Linked DNA regions of Homo sapiens: region 2 is linked to region 1. The links come from fine-mapping of genetic effects on gene expression. A gene starts in region 1. The other region holds a variant in brackets. All regions are shown on one strand. Distances are between the middles of the regions.

What was found. PIP is the estimated chance that this variant, and not a neighbour inherited with it, causes the effect.
Region 2: its variant is fine-mapped to the expression of CNN2 in whole blood (INTERVAL, PIP above 0.99).

The regions. Positions count from the first base shown.
Region 1 is chr19:1,022,123-1,031,190 of GRCh38, reverse strand. It overlaps CNN2 (calponin 2), which reads right to left and starts at 4,583. Exons shown (of 7, transcript NM_004368.4): 1 at 4,467-4,583; 2 at 1-120. The coding sequence starts at 4,529. RefSeq lists silencers at 2,631-2,806, 4,296-4,935 and an enhancer at 4,926-5,657.
Region 2 is chr19:1,066,484-1,076,887 of GRCh38, reverse strand. It overlaps ARHGAP45 (Rho GTPase activating protein 45), which reads right to left and starts at 9,721. Exons shown (of 23, transcript NM_012292.5): 1 at 9,393-9,721; 2 at 8,144-8,474; 3 at 3,596-3,739; 4 at 3,298-3,382; 5 at 3,142-3,214; 6 at 2,874-2,940; 7 at 2,647-2,784; 8 at 2,481-2,545; 9 at 2,164-2,274; 10 at 2,009-2,089. The coding sequence starts at 9,482. RefSeq lists enhancers at 1,124-1,418, 7,422-7,581, 9,772-10,278 and silencers at 1,790-2,319, 2,330-2,439, 7,972-8,071, 8,602-8,841, 9,152-9,911. The variant A/G (reference allele first, on the strand shown) is at 7,038.

The DNA.
Region 1 (9,068 bases):
GCATAAGATAGTTCCATCCTTCAGGCCCTTCTGGAAGTCGGGGCCGATGGAGAGGCCGGTGAGTCCCTCGATCCAGGTGCGGAGCTCTGCCTCCTTCTGGGGGTCATATTTGGACAGGAGCTGGTGGAGCAAAGGGCACGAGACTGAGCTGGGCTGGGGGCACCCCCAGCAGGAACCCCACAGAAGCTCTGCAGAGGGTGGGGCCGGGGACTCCAGGGCAACAGCAGATAGAGCGGCCTGGAGGTCCCCCCTCACCACACCCACGCAGATGCTCCCTTTTCCCATCATTGGGGGCGCCCCAGCCACTGCAGGCGGGCACAGATAAACCGCCCTCCAAGCAGGCCGACAACCGGCTTAGAACTCACTGATAAACATCAGCTCTAATCCACTCCCGGTGCAGGACAAACCTGGCCGGATCTGCCTCCCCGCCCTGCCTTCTCACCTCCCCGCTATATCACACCTGACGTTTACCACTTCAACCACCTGAAACCGCACCATTTCACAGCATTTCGTACGTCTGCAATGTTGTGCAACCATCAGCTCTTTTTTCTTTTTTATTTTTTTTGAGACAGAGTCTCACTCTGTCGCCCAGGCTGGAGTGCAGTGGTGCGATCTCGGCTCACTGCAAGCTCCGCCTCCCCGGTTCAGGCCATTCTCCTGCCTCAGCCTCCCGAGTAGCTGGGACTGCAGGCGCCCGCCACCAGGCCCAGCTCATTTTTTGTATTTTTAATAGAGACGGGGTTTCACCGTGTTAGCCAAGATGGTCTCCATCTCCTGACCTCGTGATCTGCCCGTCTCAGCCCTCCAAAGTGCTGGGATTACAGGTGTGAGCCACCGCGCCCGGCCCCCATCCTGCTTCTTAGCAACTCCCGAAGGAGCTGCCCCCGAGGCTGACCGCCTCTAGTCACGCACCTGGCTCCTTGCCACCGATTCCCTGCCACCTTTCTGCACCCGGCCATTCCAGCTTTCTTGGCCTTCGGTGCTCTGAGACACCGCCGTGGGGAATGGGCTGTGTGCTCCTGGGCAGTGGGTGTGCACCAGTGGGGACCTCGAGTGTCCCTATCCAGCCACTAGTGACCGCGGAGACAGCACTGAGGCAGACGGCAAAGTGTATAGGGGGCCATAAGCATGGGGGCAGGTCGTGTAGCGGGAGCGGGAGATAAACGCTGGAGGGAGAATAAAGTAGGGTTTGGGCTGGGTGCGGTGGCTCACACCTACAATCCCAGCACTTTGGGAGGCCAAGGCGGGCGGATCATCTGAGGTCAGGAGTTCGAGACTGGCCTAGCCCACATGGTGAAATCCCGTCTGTACTAAAATACAAAAATGAGCTGGGCGTGGTGGTGGGCACCTGTAGTCCCAGCTACTTGGGAGGCTGAGGCAGGAGAATCGCTTGAACCCAGGAGGCAGAGGAGGCAGTGAGCCAAGATCGGGCCACTTCACTCCAGCCTGGAACAGAGTGAGCCTCTGTCTTAAAAAAAAAAAGAAAGAAAAGAGAGAAGGAAAAAAAAAATCAAATCCCTCTCCCTGCTCTGCACCCATCTCCCCAGGTTCCCGCGGACAGCTCCCCACTCAGCCTCCGCTTCCTCATCTCTTCCTGGGATTATTTGGGTTAGGGTCCCCTGACCTGGACCTGCCTGGGATGATTTGGGTTAGGGTCCCCTGAGCTGGACCTGCCTGGGATGATTTGGGTTAGGGTCCCCTGAGCTGGACCTGCCTAGGATGATTTGGGTTAGGGTCCCCTGAGCTGGACCTGCCTGGGATGATTTGGGTTAGGGTCCCCTGAGCTGGACCTGCCTGGGATGATTTGGGTTAGGGTCCCCTGAGCTAGACCTGCCTGGGATGATTTGGGTAGGGTCCCCTGACCTGGACCTGCCTGGGATGATTTGGGTTAGGGTCCCCTGAGCTGGACCTGCCTGGGATGATTTGGGTTAGGGTCCCCTGAGCTGGACCTGCCTGGGATGATTTGGGTTAGGGTCCCCTGAGCTAGATCTGCCTGGAATGATTTGGGTAGGGTCCCCTGAGCTGGACCTGCCTGGGATGATTTGGGTTAGGGTCCCCTGAGCTGGACCTGCCTGGGATGATTTGGGTTAGGGTCCCCTGAGCTGGACCTGCCTGGGATGATTTGGGTTAGGGTCCCCTGAGCTGGACCTGCCTGGGATTATTTGGGATAGGGTCCCCTGACCTGGACCTGCCTGGGATTATTTGGGTTAGGGTCCCCTGACCTGGCACCTGCCTGGAAACAGCTCGTAGCCCAGAGGAGGCAAAGGCGGGGAGGCCCCCCAGTACCAGCTCACAGCCCACCCAGCTTGGCTTTCCACGCCCGGGGGCAGCCCCGCCCCGCCGGCAACTTTGATCCCGAGGAATGAGAACGGTGGCTGCTGGGTACACAGCCCTGCCTTGCCCAGCTGCGCCGCGTCTCTGCCGGCTCAGGGGCCCAGGTCCCCTGGCCCCACCCCCAGCCGCTGCCGTCCTCCCCCACCCCCGCCCCCCCGCTGCCCGGCCGCCGGCCTTCCAGCACATTCCTGTTCACCACAAACTGCCAGGAATGCGCGCTGCCTCCCCGGCTAAATCTGAACCAGCTGTTCCCAGCGGGTCCGGACCCCCAAGCCGGGATGCAAGGCCGCAGACACTGTGGATCCGAGCTGCCTCCGTGCCGTCCAGCCGGGAGTCAACTGAGCCACGGGGAAGCGGGGCGGGGGGCGGGTCTCTGGCTGTTTCAAGCAGCCGGTAAAGCGGGTGTGAGCGGGAAGCCAGGGGGAAGCTGGTTTCTAATTGGGAGGCGACCCTTCCGTGACCCTGGCAAGCTGGCCGACGCCTCGCCCACCCTCCAAACGGACAGACTGAGGGTTGCGCGGGGAGCCTGCTAAGCGGCTCTTCCAGCCTCTGTCCTCACCCCCGCCAGGGCAGGTATCAACCTGCCCCCACCCCACCCCACCCCGTCTCCGGAAGCCGCCCCACCCTCCTGTGCCCGCTCCCACTTCCGCAGGCCCAGCAGGTACTGGGTTCCGGTCTTGGCCCTGTCACTTGTGGGCTGTGTGGCCCTGGGCAGCTGGAACGACGTCTCTGGGTCCCTGTGGACACCGGTGCCCTTAGCCGGCTGTATGCAGGGTGCGGCAGGGTGCCCACCCCACTGCACGGGGGGCTCTATGAATGCAGGGTGCAGATGGCCCCTTGAAGGAGGAGTCGTGAGCCCCGGGCTGGGGACCCTGGCTCAGGCCTTGACCACCCCAAGCCTCAGCCTCCCTTTTTGGCCAAGAGCTGGTCTGAAGGCTTGCAGGGGCTCACAGCGGGGAAGCAGGAATTCTCCCTCCAGTCTGCCGGCCCTGGAGTGCCGCCGGGCAGGTGGCTGTTGGGGCTGGCAGGGCCGGTGCCCTCAGAGCGTGCAGAGGCAGTTTCCCCTGCAGAAGTCAGCTGTAAGGACACCTTCCCAGGTGCCCAGTGGGCGTCGGGGGAGGGGGTGGGCGGGGACGACACCCCCCTCCAGCTGGAAGGTCCTGGAGGGTCAGGTCCCGGTCCTGTCCGTGGGTCTCGCATCACAACCCCCGCCCCCCACTTTCCCTGGGAATCCTGTCCAGGACCCTGCTGTGTGACCCTGCAGAAGTGTCTGGTCCTCTCTGAGCTAGAACCACAAGTGCTCTCTTAAAAAGTGTCTCCCCTAGCCCTGGCTTGTTTTTAATTATAGAGATGGGGTTTCGCCATGTTGCCCAGACTGGTCTCGAACTCGCTGGGCTCAAGCCATCCACCCAGCTCCGCCCCCCAAAGTGCTGGGATTACGGGCGTGAGCCCCCGCGCCCTGCCGGGCCCCAGCTCTTCTTTCGAGGCTGCAAAACCCCACATATCTCAGGGCCACCTTCAGAGAACCTCTTTGTTATCCGTTTAAATTAGTCAGATGGGAGACAAAGACCGTGCAAAGCGGCTACCGCCCCTCCCCCCAAGACACCCCCAAGGTGTCCCAGAGGCCAGGAAATTCCTGTTTGTGGGGGGGTAACACTTCTCAAAAACCACTCGGCCATGCCCCTTCCCCTCCCAAAGCTAAGAGGCCCCAAAAGCAGAAGTGTGGCCAGGAGATGACGGGGTTGCTGGGGTCCCCCCCAGACCCCCAGAGCGTTGTCGGACCTTGAACGGACCTTCTCGAAGGTTGAGTGGGCGCCAGGGGCTTCACACGTGGGGGTCCTGGGGCCATGGCGAGGGGACGAAGTCAGACCCAACTACCCCTAGATGTTGGGGGGGGGAATGGGTCACTCGTCCCCCAGATCTCAGACCTGGGTGCTCCCCAAGATTCGCGGGAGCCTCAGGGGGTGCCCGCAGACATCCCCCCACCAGGCGTCAGGGAGAACAAGGGCCCGTCCGCCCCGGGTCTCCAAGCTCCCTGCCCGGGAGGTGCCGGGGGCGCCTGGGGGCTCCTGCACCGGTCGGAGCGTGCGACGGCCGCGCTGTCGGGGGGACAAGGGGCGCCCCTCACTCACCCGGTTCTTGACCTCGGCCGACAGCCCGTACGAGGGGCCCTTGTTGAACTGCGTGGAGCTCATGGCTGGCGGGCGGGCGGCGGGACGGGGCCGCACAGGACGGGACGGGACGGGACCGCCGGGCTGGCGCGGGGTTGGGACGCGCCGGGCTCCGCGCGCCACGCCCCCGCCGCTGATTGGCCCGGAGCGCAAATGTCCTTATAAGGCCTGGAGGCGCCGAATTCCTGCGGCCGCGGACTTCCTGAGCCCCCTCGGTCGCCCCCGGACCCCCGCCTGGGCACAGCACCCCCGTCACCAGAGGCCTGGAGGGGCCCCTCGCCCCCTTTGATGCCACGGGAAACTGAGGCAGGGAGGGGCCGAGGCCGCCGGGACGTGGCACTCCTGCGGGCTCTCTGCTCAGAGCTCGTGGGCGGCTCTCACTCTTTCTCCATCTCAGACTTCTCTTCTGCCAGAAAGGGGAGGGGAGAAGGCTACCTTTGGGGCAGGAATGAGGGCCCCTCTCTGCCACTTAGAGGCGTCTAACCCCTTCCCAGGGAACTCTACTAGCTGGGAGGTGGACCAGGGAACCAGGGCAGGTTCCTCAGAGAAGGGGCCATTGGAGCTGGGGCTTTGTTGGATGAGTAGGAGTTTGTCAGTCCAAAAGAGAATAGGATTCTTACTGGGTGCGGTAGCTTGCACCTGGAGTTCTAGCTACTTGGGAGGCTGAGGCCGAAGGGGGAGGATCCGTTGAGCCCAAGAGGTCGAAGCTGCAGTGAGTTATCATCACAACATGACGCTCCAGCCTGGGCAGCAGAGCAAGAGCCTCTCTCTAAAAATAAATAAATAAATAAAAATAAAAATCCGAGTGGCTCACGCCTGCAATCCCAGCACTTTGGAAGGCCGAGGCGGGCGGATCACTTGAGGTCAGGAGTTCCAGACCAGCTTGGCTAACATGGCGAAACTCCGTCTCTACTAAAAATACAAAAATTAGCCGGGCATGGGGGCACATGCCTGTAATTCCAGCTACTGAGGAGGCTGAGGTGGGAGGATCACTTGAAGCCAGGAGGCGGAGGTTGTAGTAAGTCGAGATCGCGCCACTGCACTCCAGCCTGGGCGACAGAGCAAGACTCCGTCTTAAAAAAAAAAACAAAAAAAAAAAACACAAAAAAACCCTAATAATAATAAATTATTAAAAAGTCTCCGGGACAGTCTCCTGCCAGGCAGTGCTGGCTCTCAGGAGACCTTAGCTCTGGCCCAGCCCATGCCCAGGAAGACAGAGCTGGCACAGACCAACCCCCAACCCGGATTCCCTGTATGAGCCAGCACAGGCGGAACCCCCCCACCCCGCCCACCCTGTTTCCCTATATGAGCAAGTACAGGACAGAATGAGAGGCTTGGGGCTGGAGGAACTGGAGGGAGAGTTGGGGCTCTGTCGGAGGAATCAAGGAAAGCTGCATGTAAGAGGAGGCAAGGGAGATGGGGTTTTGAAGCATCAATAGGAGTTTGACACATTTTATTTTATTTTATTTTATTTTATTTTATTTTATTTTATTTTATTTTATTTTTAGTAGAGATGGGGTTTCACCATGTTGGCCAGGCTGGTCTCGAACCCCTGACCTCAGGTGATCCACCCGCCTCAGCCTCCCAAAGTACTGTGATTACAGGCTTGAACCACTGCACCTGGCCGACCCATGTCATTTTAGACCAGTGCTGACCATTTCTGTTATTCTGAGATGAAGGAAATTTTCAATGTGGCACTATCTACTACTGTAGCCACTGGCCATGGGGCTACTGAGCACTGGAAGTGTGGCTGGTGCCATCAGGGAAGCAAATACTTCATGTTCTTTTTATTTTATTTTATTATTATTTTTTGAGACGGAGTCTCGCTCTGTCACCCAGGCTGGAGTGCAGTGGCGCAATCTTGGCTCACTGCAAGCTCCACCTCCTGGGTTCACGCCATTCTCCTGCCTCAGCCTCCCCAGCAGCTGGGACTACAGGCACACCTCCACACCCAGCTAATTTTTGTATTTTTAGTAGAGACGGGGTTTCACTGTGTTATCCAGGATGGTCTCGATCTCCTGACCTCGTGATCTGCCCGCCTCAGCCTCCCAAAGTGCTGGGATTACAGGTGTGAGCCACCGCACCCAGCAAATACTTCCTATTCTTAAATTTCAATTAAAAATTAAAAACTGGCACTAGATTCCATTTTTTGAAGACACATATATATAAATACACATATATATGTAGCTGGGACTCCGAGTAGCTGGGACCGTAGACACGCACCACCACGCCTGGCTAATTTTTGCATTTTTAGTAGAGATGCGGGTTTCACCATGTTGGCCAGGCTGGTCTTGAACTCCTGACCTCAAGTGATCCGCCGGCCTCAGCCTTCCGAAGTGCTGGGATTATAGGTGTCAGCTGCCGTGGCCGGGCTATTTCAATTAATTTCAGTTAAAAATTAAAAACTGACATGATTTCCGTTTTTGACTATATATATATGTACACACACATTAAAGTTTTCAAATACATAAATACACACATATGTACACATTATACATATAAATGTAAATATATAGATATTTGAAACAGGGTCTTGCTCTGTCACCCAGGCTGGAGTGCAGTGGTGCAAATATAGTTCACTGCAGCCTCGACCTCCTGGACTCAAGTAATCTCCTGCCTCAGCCTCCTGAGTATCTGGGACTACAGGCATGTGCCATATGCCTAGCTAATTTTTAAATTTTTTGTAGAGATGGGGTCTCCCTATGTTGCCCAGTCTGGATTCAAGTGATCCTCCCGCCTCAGCCTCCCAAAGTGCTGGGATTGCAGGCGTGAGCCACCGTGCTCAGCCTCGTGTATATTTTAAATACCTTAGCGTTTCTGAATTTTCCTTTTCAGTATAAACGCTGTAAATCTAAATACTGTGGAGATAAGTATTTCTGAGGAAGCACTGGTATCCATATTGGAACACCCCATGGATGGGAAACACACCAGATTCTGAAGACTTGGTACATCTCAGTTACTTTTTTTTTTTTTTTTTTTTTGAGAAGTAGTCTCGCTCTGTCACCCAGGCTGGGGTGCAGTGGCGTGATCTCGGCTCACTGCAAGCTCCGCCTCCCGGGTTCAGGCCATTCTTCTGCCTCAGCCTCCCGAGCAGCTGGGACTACAGGCGCCCGCCACCACACCCAGCTAATATTTTTGTATTTTTAGTAGAGACAGGGTTTCACCGTGTTTGCCAGGGTGGTCTCGATCTCCTGACCTCGTGATCCGCCCGCCTCGGCCTCCCAAGTGCTGGGATTACAGGTGTCAGCCACCGCGCCCGGCCACTTTTTTTTCGTTTATGAGGTGGGGTCTTGCTCTGTTGCCCAGGCTGGAGTGCAATGGTGCCATCACAGCTCACTGCAGCCTCCAACTCCTTGGCTTAAGCAATCCTCTTGCCTCAGCCTCCCAAGTAGCTGGGACCACAGGCACACACCACCGTGCCCAGCTAATTTTTGGTATTTTTCGTAGAGACAGGATCTCATTATATTGCCCAGGCTGGTCTTGAACACCTGGGCTGAAATGATCCTCCCGCCTCAGCCTCCAAAAGTGCTGAGATTACAGGCATGAGCCACCGCGCCTGACCTTGTTTGGATAACTTGAGATGTGTAAAATATATTATTAAAATTAATTTCACTTGCTCTTTTTTAGTTGTTTTACTGTGGCTACCAGAACACTTAAAGTTATGTTTGTTATTTGCTTATCTTTCTCTTGGAAAGCTGTGTTCTTGACCTGTGGGCCAAATCCAGCTGCAGCCTATTTTTGTATGGCTTGTGAGCTAAGAATGGCTCTTACATTTTTAAGTGGTTGAAAAAAAAACCCAAAATATGAAAACCATTCTATCAAACGTGGAAATTACATAACATTCAAATTCCAGTGTCTGCAGACAAAGCTTTATTGGCACACAGCTGTGCCCATCCATTTATGTATCATTTACGGCTGCGTTTTCTGTACAACAGCAGAGTGGAGTAGTTACTCTACCCAAAAAAGCTAAAAATACTGACTGTTGGCTTTTTTACACTTTATTTTTTAGAGACAGGGTCTCACTTAGTCATCCAACCTGGAGCGCAGGGATACGATCATGGCTCACTGCAGCCTCCAACTCCTGGGCTCAAGCAGTCCTCCCACCTCAGCCTCCCAAGTAGCTGGAATTACAGGCATGCACCAACGTCCTCAGTTAACTTTTAAAAACATTTTTTTGGGGGGGCCGGGCGCGGTGGCTCATGCCTGTAACTCCAGCACTTTGGGAGGCTGACGCGGGTGGATCACGAGGTCAGGAGTTCAATACCAACCTGGCCAAGATGATCAAACCTGGTCTCCACTAAAAATACAAAAAAAATAGCCGGGTGTGGTGGCGGAAGCCTGCAATCCCAGCTATTCAGGAGGCTGAGGCAGAGAATTGCTTGAACCCAAGAGGCGGAGGTTGCAGTGAGCCGAGATCACGCCACTGCACTCCAGCCTGGGCGACAGAGTGAGACTGCGTCTCAAAAAAAAAAAACAACACAAAACTTTTTTTTGGCGGGCTTGGTGGGTCACACCTGTAATCCCAGCACTTTGGGAGGCCTAGGCGGGCAAATCACCTAAAGT
Region 2 (10,404 bases), 45 kb before region 1:
AGACGTGGTGGCGCACACCTGTGGTCCTAGCTACTCGAGACCAGCCTGGCCAACATGATGAAACCCCATCTCTACCAAAGATATAAAAATTAGCCAAGCACGGTGTCTTATGCCTATAATTCCAGCACTTTGGAAGGACAAGGTGGGCAGATTACCTGAGGTCAGGAGTTCGAGACCAGCCTGGCCAAGGTGGTGAAACCCCATCTCTACTAAAAATACAAAAATTAGCCAGGCATGTTGGCTGGCGCCTGTAATCCCAGCTACTTGGGAGGCTGAGGCAGAAGAATCGCTTGAGCCCAGGAGATGGAGGTTGCAGTGAGCTGAGATCGATCCACTGCACTGCAGCCTGGGCAACAGAGTGAGGCTCTTGTCTCAAAAAAAAAAAAAAAAAAAAAAAAAAAAAAGACTACTGCCAACAATCACAGGTTTCTACCTGGCAAAATAGGCCACAGGTAAAAATCAAAAGTCAAACAGTAAATTGTGGGAGGGGAATGGGGGGAGTCTAAAACTCACATGATTAAGGCCTAAGTTCTCTAATATGTAAAAAGCTCTGACAAATCAATGATAAGCCACTGTCCAGTACAAAGTAAGCAAAGGATAAGAACTAAGCAAAGGTTAAGAACTGAGGGTTCACAGAAGAGGAAAAGCAGGGCTGTGGCCTGGGAGGGTAGCTCATACACGCACGCCCCTTGACCCAGCAGTTCTATTTTGGGCACTGATCCCTCAGGCATCCTTGAGACAGGGGCACAAGCTTGTCATAGCAATGGTGTTCGTAACAGCAACAGCTCAGCCACTCCCAAGACGTCCATGAAATAACCTACTCAATCTCCTCAGCTGAGCCCTGCACAGCCGAAAAAAGGGGTTCAGGCTGCTTCATGCTGACTGATATCGGGTGAGCCTCTCTATATGGAGGTGAGGATAAAAATCAGGAGCAGAACAGGGCATGAGGTGAGCTGTCCTCGTGTGTACAAAACAGGGCAGATATGTGTTTGCCGGTATGTGCTGGAAGGAGCTAGGAGGGTGCGTTTCACTGCAGACCGTGTTAACACAGCTAAAAAGCAAACAAAAACTGGGCAACATAGTGAGTATACAAAAAATACAAAAAAATGAACTGGGTGTGATGGCTGGTGCCTGTAGACCCAGGAACTCAGGAGGCTGAGGTGGGAGGATCATTGCAGCCCAAGAAGGCAAGTCTGCAGTGAGGTATGATTGCGTCACTGCAGTCCAGCCTGGGTGACAGAGCGAGACCTTATCTCAAAACAAGCAAAGAAACAAACAAAAAGGCGCCGGCGTCTTTGAAATAACCCAAAAGCGAAGTGGGAAGAGAATACAGGCAGGAGGCCGGGTGGGTGCGGTGGCTCACGTCTGTAATCTCAGCACTTTGGGAGGCCGACGCGGGTGGATCACCTGAGGTCAGGAGTTCGAGACCAGCCTGACCACTATGGTGAAACCCCGTCTCTACTAAAAATACAAAAATTAGCCAGGTGTGGTGGCGTGCTTCTGTAATCCCAGCTACTCGGGACGCTGCGACAGGAGAATTGTTTGAACCAGGGAGATGGAGGTTGCAGTGAAAGCCTAGATGGTGCCATGGCACTCCAGCCTGCAGCCTGGGCGACAGAGCGAGACTCCGTATCAAAAAAAAAAAAAAAAAGAATACATGCAGGAGCATGGCGCTTTCCCAGTCCTGAGAGACCATCAGTCTCCCTCAACCCGGAGACCAGCTGCTTACAACCGAGGGAGGCACGGCTTCTCCCCATTTCTGCAGGGACAGCAGTGAGCGCCGGGCTCCTGGGTCCTTCCAGGCAGAGCTGGGGGCGACGGGGCTGGAGCATCTCCGACCCGGCTTGGCGTTGGGGGGGGCGGCCCAGCCTGCGAGGCCGCGCATGCGCAGGAGGCCGGGGCGTGTGCGGAGCTCGCCGCAGGGCCCTCGCTATGGGGCTGGGGCTGGGACTGCGCCTGCGCCGAGGCCCGCTGCCCGCCCCCGCCCGCCCCCGCCCGCCCGCCTCACCAGCTTCCTCTGGGCACGGTGCCAGGCCTCCTTGATCTCCTTCCTGCGCTTCTCGTGTTCAAGCCGCCGCAGGGTCAGGGGCTGGGGCGAGACGGGCCGTGAGTGGGTACCCCGGTGACACCCCCGCCCAGCCCGCCCTCCCGGGCACCACGCACCTGCATGAAGGTCTGGGTCTGCAAGGTGCCCACCGCCTGCACCATGCTGTGGCCGAACTCCAGGTCCTGCTCCAGGGCCAGCGAGTAGATGGACAGGAGCGGCATGTGGGGCTGTGGGTGGGGCACCGGCTCACTGGGTGGGGAGGGATGGAGGCAGGGCGGCCCCAGCACCCCCAGCCACCAGCTCCCTGGTCCCTGCAGCCACCCCCGTTAATGTAGAGGGGAAGCCCCTGCTCTTGGTCCCTGGGCCCTTGAAATGGGGCTGAGACTCACACCCGGGCCCAGGGACCCCCGCCCCGTGCCCGCGGGGCCCCCACCTCCTGCATGACGCTCTGTCTGCAGTTGTGAGCGATCTTCTGCAGGCCCTTGGCAAACTCCATCTCTGCGGGCCGGAGAGGGGTGTGAGGTGCTGGGACAAGGCCTTCCCAGCTCACCCAGAACCCCCTCCCTCCAGACCCACCCTGCTGGGACACCAGCTCTCACCCAGCGTCGTCCGCTTCTCCAGGTAGCTGATGAGGTCCTTCATGTACTTGGCCATGTTCTTGGCATACAGCAGTGCGGCATCCACGCCCCCCTCACAGCGCTGTAGCAGCACGTCCACCTCCTCGGCGGGCAGGCAGCCTGCAGGGAACGGGGGCCTGCTCAGCCTGGCCCGACCCGCGCAATGGCCCACCCCTCAAATGCCTGCCTGCCGCTGGGTGGGGGCTTACCGGCGTCACAGTCTTCCAGGCTGGGAGGCGTGCCCTCACTGCCCGGTCCATACAGGCTTTCCATGGACTGTAGGACGGAGACGCAGGTGAGACCAGCCCCATGCGGGGCCCTGGGCAGTGCCCACCCTTCAGGGGACGGTTGCTGCCTCCCCCAGAGAGGGAAACCAAGGCGCACAGGGGAAGCAGGGTGACTGTCTGGGCCCTGCAGACCTGAACCCGGCTGGCCTCCAGAAGCTGGACACAGGTGGCCCTGGCCCACCCCACTCACCTGGCTCGAGTCCCCAGGAGGCACTGCTAGGAGGGTGCTGCTGTCCACTTCACCCATGAGGAACTCGGACACTCTGCAGGGCCAGCGAGGTCACCATCGAGAGACACCCGGGCCCCCCACGCTCCCTTGCCCTGCCCCACAGGCTCCCGTGCTCACGTGCTACTGAAGGCCACAGCAATCGTCTCCAGGGCCTTCTCGAACTCCTGTTTCTCCAGATCATTGTTGCTCTCATAATGGAAGGCTGGGAAGCAGAGATAAGGACAAGGAGGTGGGCCCACTCTGGGAGGTGACCATCCCTGCAAGAACTGACCGGAGCCCTTAACCCAGGGGGAACAGGAGGGAGCTTGTGCCTGTCAAACTCCTATGCATCCTTCAAAACCCACTTCAAACATCCCCTCCTCCAGGATGCCCTTCTAGGCAGAGAGCCCTCGCAGCCCTGTTCCAGCAGGCTGACCTTTGACCTTGGCAATGAGGGTGCCGGCTGCGGTGAGCGTCTCCACGGTGTTCAGCAGCGGGTACTTGGAGATGATCTGATGCATGACACGCAGAGCCTCACCCAGGCACTCGTGGGCCCGCGGGCGGCGGGCCTCAAGGAGGTCTGCTGGGGAGAGTCGGAGTGAGCAGTGGGGTAGGGCCCAGTCCCAGGGAAAGTCTGTCCACCTCCTCCCTCTTTAGAGCTCCTGTTCCCAGATGGGGAAACTGAGGCAGAGGTGGAAGACGGCAGATGCCTGGGGCTCATTTCGAGACCGCGGGGAGGGCACTGTCCCTCCCTGGGCTACCGGCCAGATCAACAAAGGCCAGACGTTGGCCTAGGCACTCTGCTGCTCAGAACACTCTTTTCTTGTCCCTCCAGAAAGCAAACTGCCTCTTGTCCTTCAAGCTACAGTCCTGCAGCCCCTTCCTCCATGCAGCCCACCAGGCTCCTTCCCTGCCCTAACTCCTCAGGACTGCTCAAAGCCCTGTCCAGGTCTCTCTCTGCCCTTCCTAAGTGAGGAAACTGAGGCATAGAGAGGGGAAGCCATTTCTCAACAATCACACAGCTTTTCCATCTACGCTAGCTCTGAAGGCGTGAGAACGCCAGGCAGAGGGATCCTGCCTGGCTTTATCTCCAGGGCAATAGGGAGCCATAGAAGGTGTTAGAACAGAGGAGGTCAGATCTGACTGTTGGAACCTGGCTTTCACTGCCCTCCTCAGCCAGGGGTGGTGGCTTACACCTGTGACCCCAGCACTTTGGGAGGCTGAGGCAGGAGGACGGGTTGAGCCCAGGAATTCAAGACCAGCCTGGGCAATACAGTAAGACCCTGTCTCTGTAAGAAATAAAATAAAGAATAAAAAGCTAAATGCCCTCATCGAACGTTCTCAATTGGAAGAAGAAAAAAGCAGAGAGGGCCAAGCACAGTGCCTCATGCCTGTAATCCCAGCACTTGGTGAGGCCGAGGCAGGCAGATCACTTGAGGTCAGGAGTTTGAGACCATCCTGGCCAACATGGCGAAACCCTGCCTCTACTAAAAATACAAAAAGTAGCAGCGTGGTGGCACTCCTCTGTAATGCCGGCTACTCGGGAGGCTGAGGCAGGAGAATCGCTTGAAGCTGGGAGGCGGAGGTTGCAGTGAGCCGAGATCGCGCCACTGCACTCCAGCTGGGTGACAGAGTGAGACTCCTCCATCCCAAAAAGAAAGGAAAGAAAAGAAAGAAAGAAAAGGAAAGAAAAGAAAAGAAGGAAAGAAAAGAAAAAAGCAGAGAGTACAGGCGAAACATCGAGAGCCAGGCACACACCACGTAGTGGAAACAAACCCACGGAATTCGTAGGAGGGGAAAGGTACCCGGGAGGACAGAGGCCAGCGGGAGGGGCAGCTTTGACGCCTGACTGTACCGCTCAGAGGATGCCCCAAATACGAAATGAAATCTGAAAAAGTAAGTGCCCCATCCCTTTCGGCACCGAAGACCCCAGGTGAATGTCACCTCCGGGAAGAGACCGACCGAGTCACCCGCCAGAGATACCCCGCTGGCCGCCGCCGGGCCTGAGACCCCGGACCGGAACATGTCTTCGCTGCTGGATGCGAGGCGGACTCCGGGAATGGGATTGGGGCTCCAGGAGCTCCGGGAAGCCGCTGGGAGGCCCCGGCCACGCCCCTTCTCGGGACCTTCCAGCCGGGCACCCGGCACTCCGCGCGCGGCCGGCGCACGGACCCCCGGCTGTCCCCGCACACCCCCTACCCGGGAAGCCGGCGGCCGGCGCGACCCCTGCGCAGCGCAGGGATGCCCAGGTGCGCACGGCCAGGCCAGGCGCGCGGCAGCCGCTGCTCCCCCACCGCGGGCGGCAAACGGCCCGAGCGCCACGTGCTCCCGGACGCGGCGGGACCCAGCGCCCGGCACCTGTCCCCTCACCTCGGGGGCCCGCCCGGCAGCGCACGGGGCCCTCGTCCAGCACCGGGTGCGCCGTCCCGCAGATACACATGGCGCAGCCGTCGGGGCGCGGAGACCGCGAGCGCGTGGGGCCTGGCAGCTGACCGATGGGGGTCTCCGGTGGCCAAACCGGCTCCGGCCGGTCAGGAGGCCCCGCCCCCGCGAGGGAAACCCCGCCCTGGGGTCCCGTTCGCCCCAGCCTGGGTCCTTCCTTAACCGCAGAGCTTCGAGGTGGGGAGGGTCGAGGACGGGCAGGGAAACTGAGGCCCAGACCTGAAGCCCGGGAACGAGGAAGCCCGGGAAGTGTCGGGGTGGCACCGTCCATGTGGGTCCCCTCCTAGCTGCCTGAACGCGGGTCCCCAAGCTGTGGGGTGGACCCCACAACCATCGCTGCATGCAGGTGGCCCCATTTTATAGATAAGTCACCTGACACCTAGAGAGGGAAGGGGCTTGCCAGGGTCTCAGCAGCTGAGAAACATCGGGACTAGAGCCCACATCCTAGCCGCCAGGGTCTTCTCTGGCCTGGGGCGGCCCCGAGACGCACAGAAGGCGCCCCCAGCCGGGCGCGGTGGATCAGGCCTGTTATCCCAGCACTTTGGGAGGCGGAGCCGGGAGAACGGTTTTTAGCTCGGGAGTTCTAGACCAGCCTGCGCAATATGGGGAGACCCCGGTCTCTACAAAAAATACAAAAACTGGCCGGGCGCGATGGCTCACGCCTGTAATCCTGGCGCTTTGGGAGGCCGAGGTGGGTGGATCACTTGAGATCAGGAGTTCAAGACCAGCCTGGCCAAAATGGTGAAACCCCATCTCTACTAAAAAAAAAAAAAAAAGAAAGAAAAAAAATTAGCCGGGCACGGTGGCGCGCCCCTGCAATCCCAGCCACTCGGGAGGCTGAGGCAGAAGAACCACTTGAACCCAGGAGGTGGAGGTTGCAGTGAGCTGAGATCTCGCCCCTGCACTCCAGCCTGGGTGACAGAGTGAGACTCTGTCTCAAAAAAAAAAAAAAAAAAAGAAAAGAAAAGAAAAAGAAAGAAAAAAAGAAAAGCCCGGGCACGGTGGCTCATGCCTGCTGTAATCCCAGCACTTTGGGAGGCTGAGGCATGCGGATCACGAGGTTAGGGGTTTGAGACCAACCTGGCCAATATGGTGAAACCCCATCTCTACTAAAAATACAAAAATTAGCCAGGTGTGGTGGCACGCACCTGTAGTCCTAGCTACTCGGGAGCCTGAGGCAGAAGAATCACTTGAACCCGAGAGAGGAAGGTTGCAATGAGCCGAGATCGCGCCACTGCACTCCAGCCTGGGCGACAGAGTGAGACTCCATCTCACCATCTCAAATAAAATAAATAAAATAAAATAAATCAGGTGCAGTGGCTCATGCCTGTAGTCTCAGGTACTCGGGAGGCAGAGGTAGGAGGATGGCTTGAGCCCAGGAGTTCAAGGTAACAGTGAGCCTCAATCACACCACTGGACTCCAGCCTGGGCAACAG[A/G]GCAAGACCCTGTATCAAAAAAAAAAAAAAAAAAGTGCCCCACCCTGGCTGGCCCAGTTCAGACCTCCTGCAGGAGCCTGGGAGCTGAGCCCCGCCCAGGCCAGGCCTCCAAGGAAGCGCCAGGATCGGAAAGGAACCGAGATTAGGGTTTCCCCAGGAAAGCAGCCTAGCCCCCGCCCCTGGGACCAGATAACCCGGGGGCTCCCACTCCTCCCAGTGGGGACCGGGCCTTCCCCAACTAGTGCCCTGAAGGTGCAGAGGCCACTCCACCACTTGAGGTCCAGTCCTGGCTCTGCCCTGCCCTGGCTGGGTGAGCCAGGGGTCAGGGCCTCACTAGAGACTTAGTTTCGTCATCTGTAAAATGGGCGGCTGCTGGGAGCAGATCAGAGCGCCTGGCATGACCCTGGCACTGTGGTTTCTGGGAGGAGCCGGGGGCTGAAGGCAGCACATGAGGTGCCCGCCTGGGCTGCCAGGGACAAACAGGAAGCAGATGAAAATAACTCGGCAGGAAGCAGGGCTGTCAGCGGCCGCGTGGAGGAGAAAACGGAACTGCCGGCCTGCAGGCCGCTGGGTCCCAGCACCTCCGCCGCCTGATGACCCCATCCTGCCCCTCGCCATGCCTCCTGAATCTCTCTCCACCCAGACCTCAGCCAACCCCCAGTTTGCTTCATTCCAAGACACAGATCTGCCCCCATCTGTCCTGTGCTCTAACACCTTCTATGGCTCCCCATTGCCCTTCTGCCTGGCGTTGTCATGCCTTCATCCTACACCAGCGGCACCCCACACCTTGGCCCCCAAATGCATTCTCTGTTTCCGTGTTTCTGAGCCTGTGCATGGGACATTTCCTCTGCCTTTCCCTCCTAATTGCCATCAGATCCTTTAAAAAAAATAAAGTGGGCACCCTCTTGAGCCAGTGTACGCTCAGGGACTCCCCCACCAAACTCCTACACATCCCTCAGAGCCTTAGCTGTCATGGCCTCTTCCACACAGCCCTCCCTGCCATCTGAGCCTCCCTCCCTTCTGAGCCTCCCCAAGTCCCTCCCTCCATCCTCCCTTGGGTCTGGCTCTGTCTTCCACCCAGGCCTCGGTGTCCCCGTGGCTCTCACCGTCACGCAACACACACTCCTTAAGTTTCTCAAGGCCCTCAGCGAAGCGGGCCACGTCCGCCAGCAGATGGGAGATGTCCTCGACGACGTCCGGGCCGGCACCCTCGGTGGGCAGCTCGCCCGGGCTGGCGGCTGTCAGTGGGCTCCGGTGGCTCCGGCCCAGTGTCCAGGAGGCAGCACCCGACAGGGGGAAGCCAGCCGCGCTGGCGTGGCGGCTCAGGCTGGTGGGCCGCTTGAGGGTCCCTGTGGCCTTGACGCCGGAGGACCCAGCGGGCGGCTCCAGGCTTGGTCCGGGGAACACCGCGTCAGCCCCATCCTTCCTGGGCAGCTCCTTGGGCAGGTCCGAGGGGAGCTCGTTAAAGGGATTTTCCGGCCTGGACACGGCCTCAGTTTCCCCAGAAATGAAGTGGGGCTGTGGAGGGCCACCATCACCCTGACCCCACAGGGGTCAAAGGCCAGAGGTCACAGGGCCGAGATTTGGTAGTGTACCCCCCCACCTGTTACCCAACATCCTCTTCCCTAGAGCTTTCACAAACAACGGTCCTTGCCCAAACCACAGCCGGGGCGGGGCCTGCGGGGAGGCGCGGGAGGGGGGTCCCCACTTCCTGGTGGGGGTGGGGAGGGTCCTCAGCCCTTCAAGCCCCCCTCAGGCTCCTACAACGCAGGTGCTTTAAGTGAACACACTTCTGACTCTGTCTGTCCCCTAAAGGTCCATGGAACCCCAGAGCCTATGGGCAGCCCCAGGCCTTGTAGACATCCCGGACCCCCAAGCTCTGTAGACCCCCCCCCCAGCTTTGTAGACACCCCAGGCCTGGGGACACTCCCCAACCTCTGAACCTGGTGGATCCCATTAGAGGATCTGCTGCCCGGTCAACCTTCAGCCCAATGGCCAGGCCACAGCCCTCCCATCTCAACGGCCCCTAGAGCCCCCAGATTGCCTAAGCCCCCAACCTGCAGCGGCCCAAACACAACATCGTCCCAACCCGGCACCCTCCCTTCCTGCTCCCTGGGCCCCGCGGCCAGCCCTGGATGGAGTGGAGGGAGGCGGCCACCACTCCCAGGGTCCCTACCGTGAGCTGAATGCCGGGGTCCCGGCCTCTCTGCTGTGGCCCCTGCCGTCCCGCCCGGTAGGGGCTGTAGCTGGCACGAGCCCCCAGCCGCCGCCCCAGCATGAGCCCCGAGCACAGGGCGGGTCCCTGTCCCCCTGCGGCCCGGCGTCAGCTCCGGGTCTCACCCGGGCTCCACTCACCCCCGAGGGCTGCGGGCTGGGGCTTCCCGCGCGGTTCTTTTTCGAGATGGAAGGGGTTTTCATGAGCTCTCGTTTCTTCCTGGAGAACATGATGGGGCCCCGGCCGGGAGCCCGAGGGGGCGGGCTGGGGGTCTCAGCGCTGCAGCTCCCGGCGCTGGCCGCTTCGGGACCACATTGTCGCCGGCCACCCCCTCCCCAGCTGTCAGGCCCACGTGACAGGCCCGGCCGTCACTGGCGGGCCCTCCCCCCAACAGGAAAAGGCTTCGGGGAGGCGGCGACGCGGCCTCGCCCCCGACCCTTCCCGGCCTCAGCCTGCGGCTCTGCGGAGTGGGCGCGAAGGTGAGGTCGCAGGCCCCGCCCCCAGCCCCGGGCCGCGCCCCCCGCTTCCGCCTTCGGGAGCTCGGAGCCGCGCCGCTCGCGGGGTGGGACCGGGAGCCCCTGCCTGACGCTGGCGGGCACGGGGCGGCCGACTGCAGGGCGCTGACTCTCACTCCCGGACGCGAGTGGGCGTGCACAGACACGTGCACGATGACACGCAGAGACCCGGACCTCCACACGCGCTCAGACGCCACCAAGCCCCTGGAGCCTCGCCCTCAGACCCCAGACACACGCACAGGCCGAAGCTGCGCCCCTGCAGCCCCCTTTTCCCTGAAGGCAAGCCCGCTCCACCGCCTCTCCTGCAGACCCTAGGGTGTGGCCGGGCCCCAGCAGGGCCGGGCAGAGTAGGGTCCCCCCCATCACCCGCCCTGCAGCCCCGTGAAGTGGGTCAGGTCGAGGACAGGTGGGGAAACTGAGGCCCAGAACCGAAACCCTGGGGGCAAAGACGTCCAGGAAGTCAGAACAATCCAGGTTACCGGGCCCTGTCCGTCTGGGTCCCCACGTCCGTCTGGGTCCCCACGTCCACCTGGTCCTGGGCTGCCTGCACAGGGGTCCCCAAAGTGTGGTGTGGACCCCACCATCGGCAGAATATGCTGAGGACACCTGGTTACCTCTCAGCAGCCCTGTGGGCCAT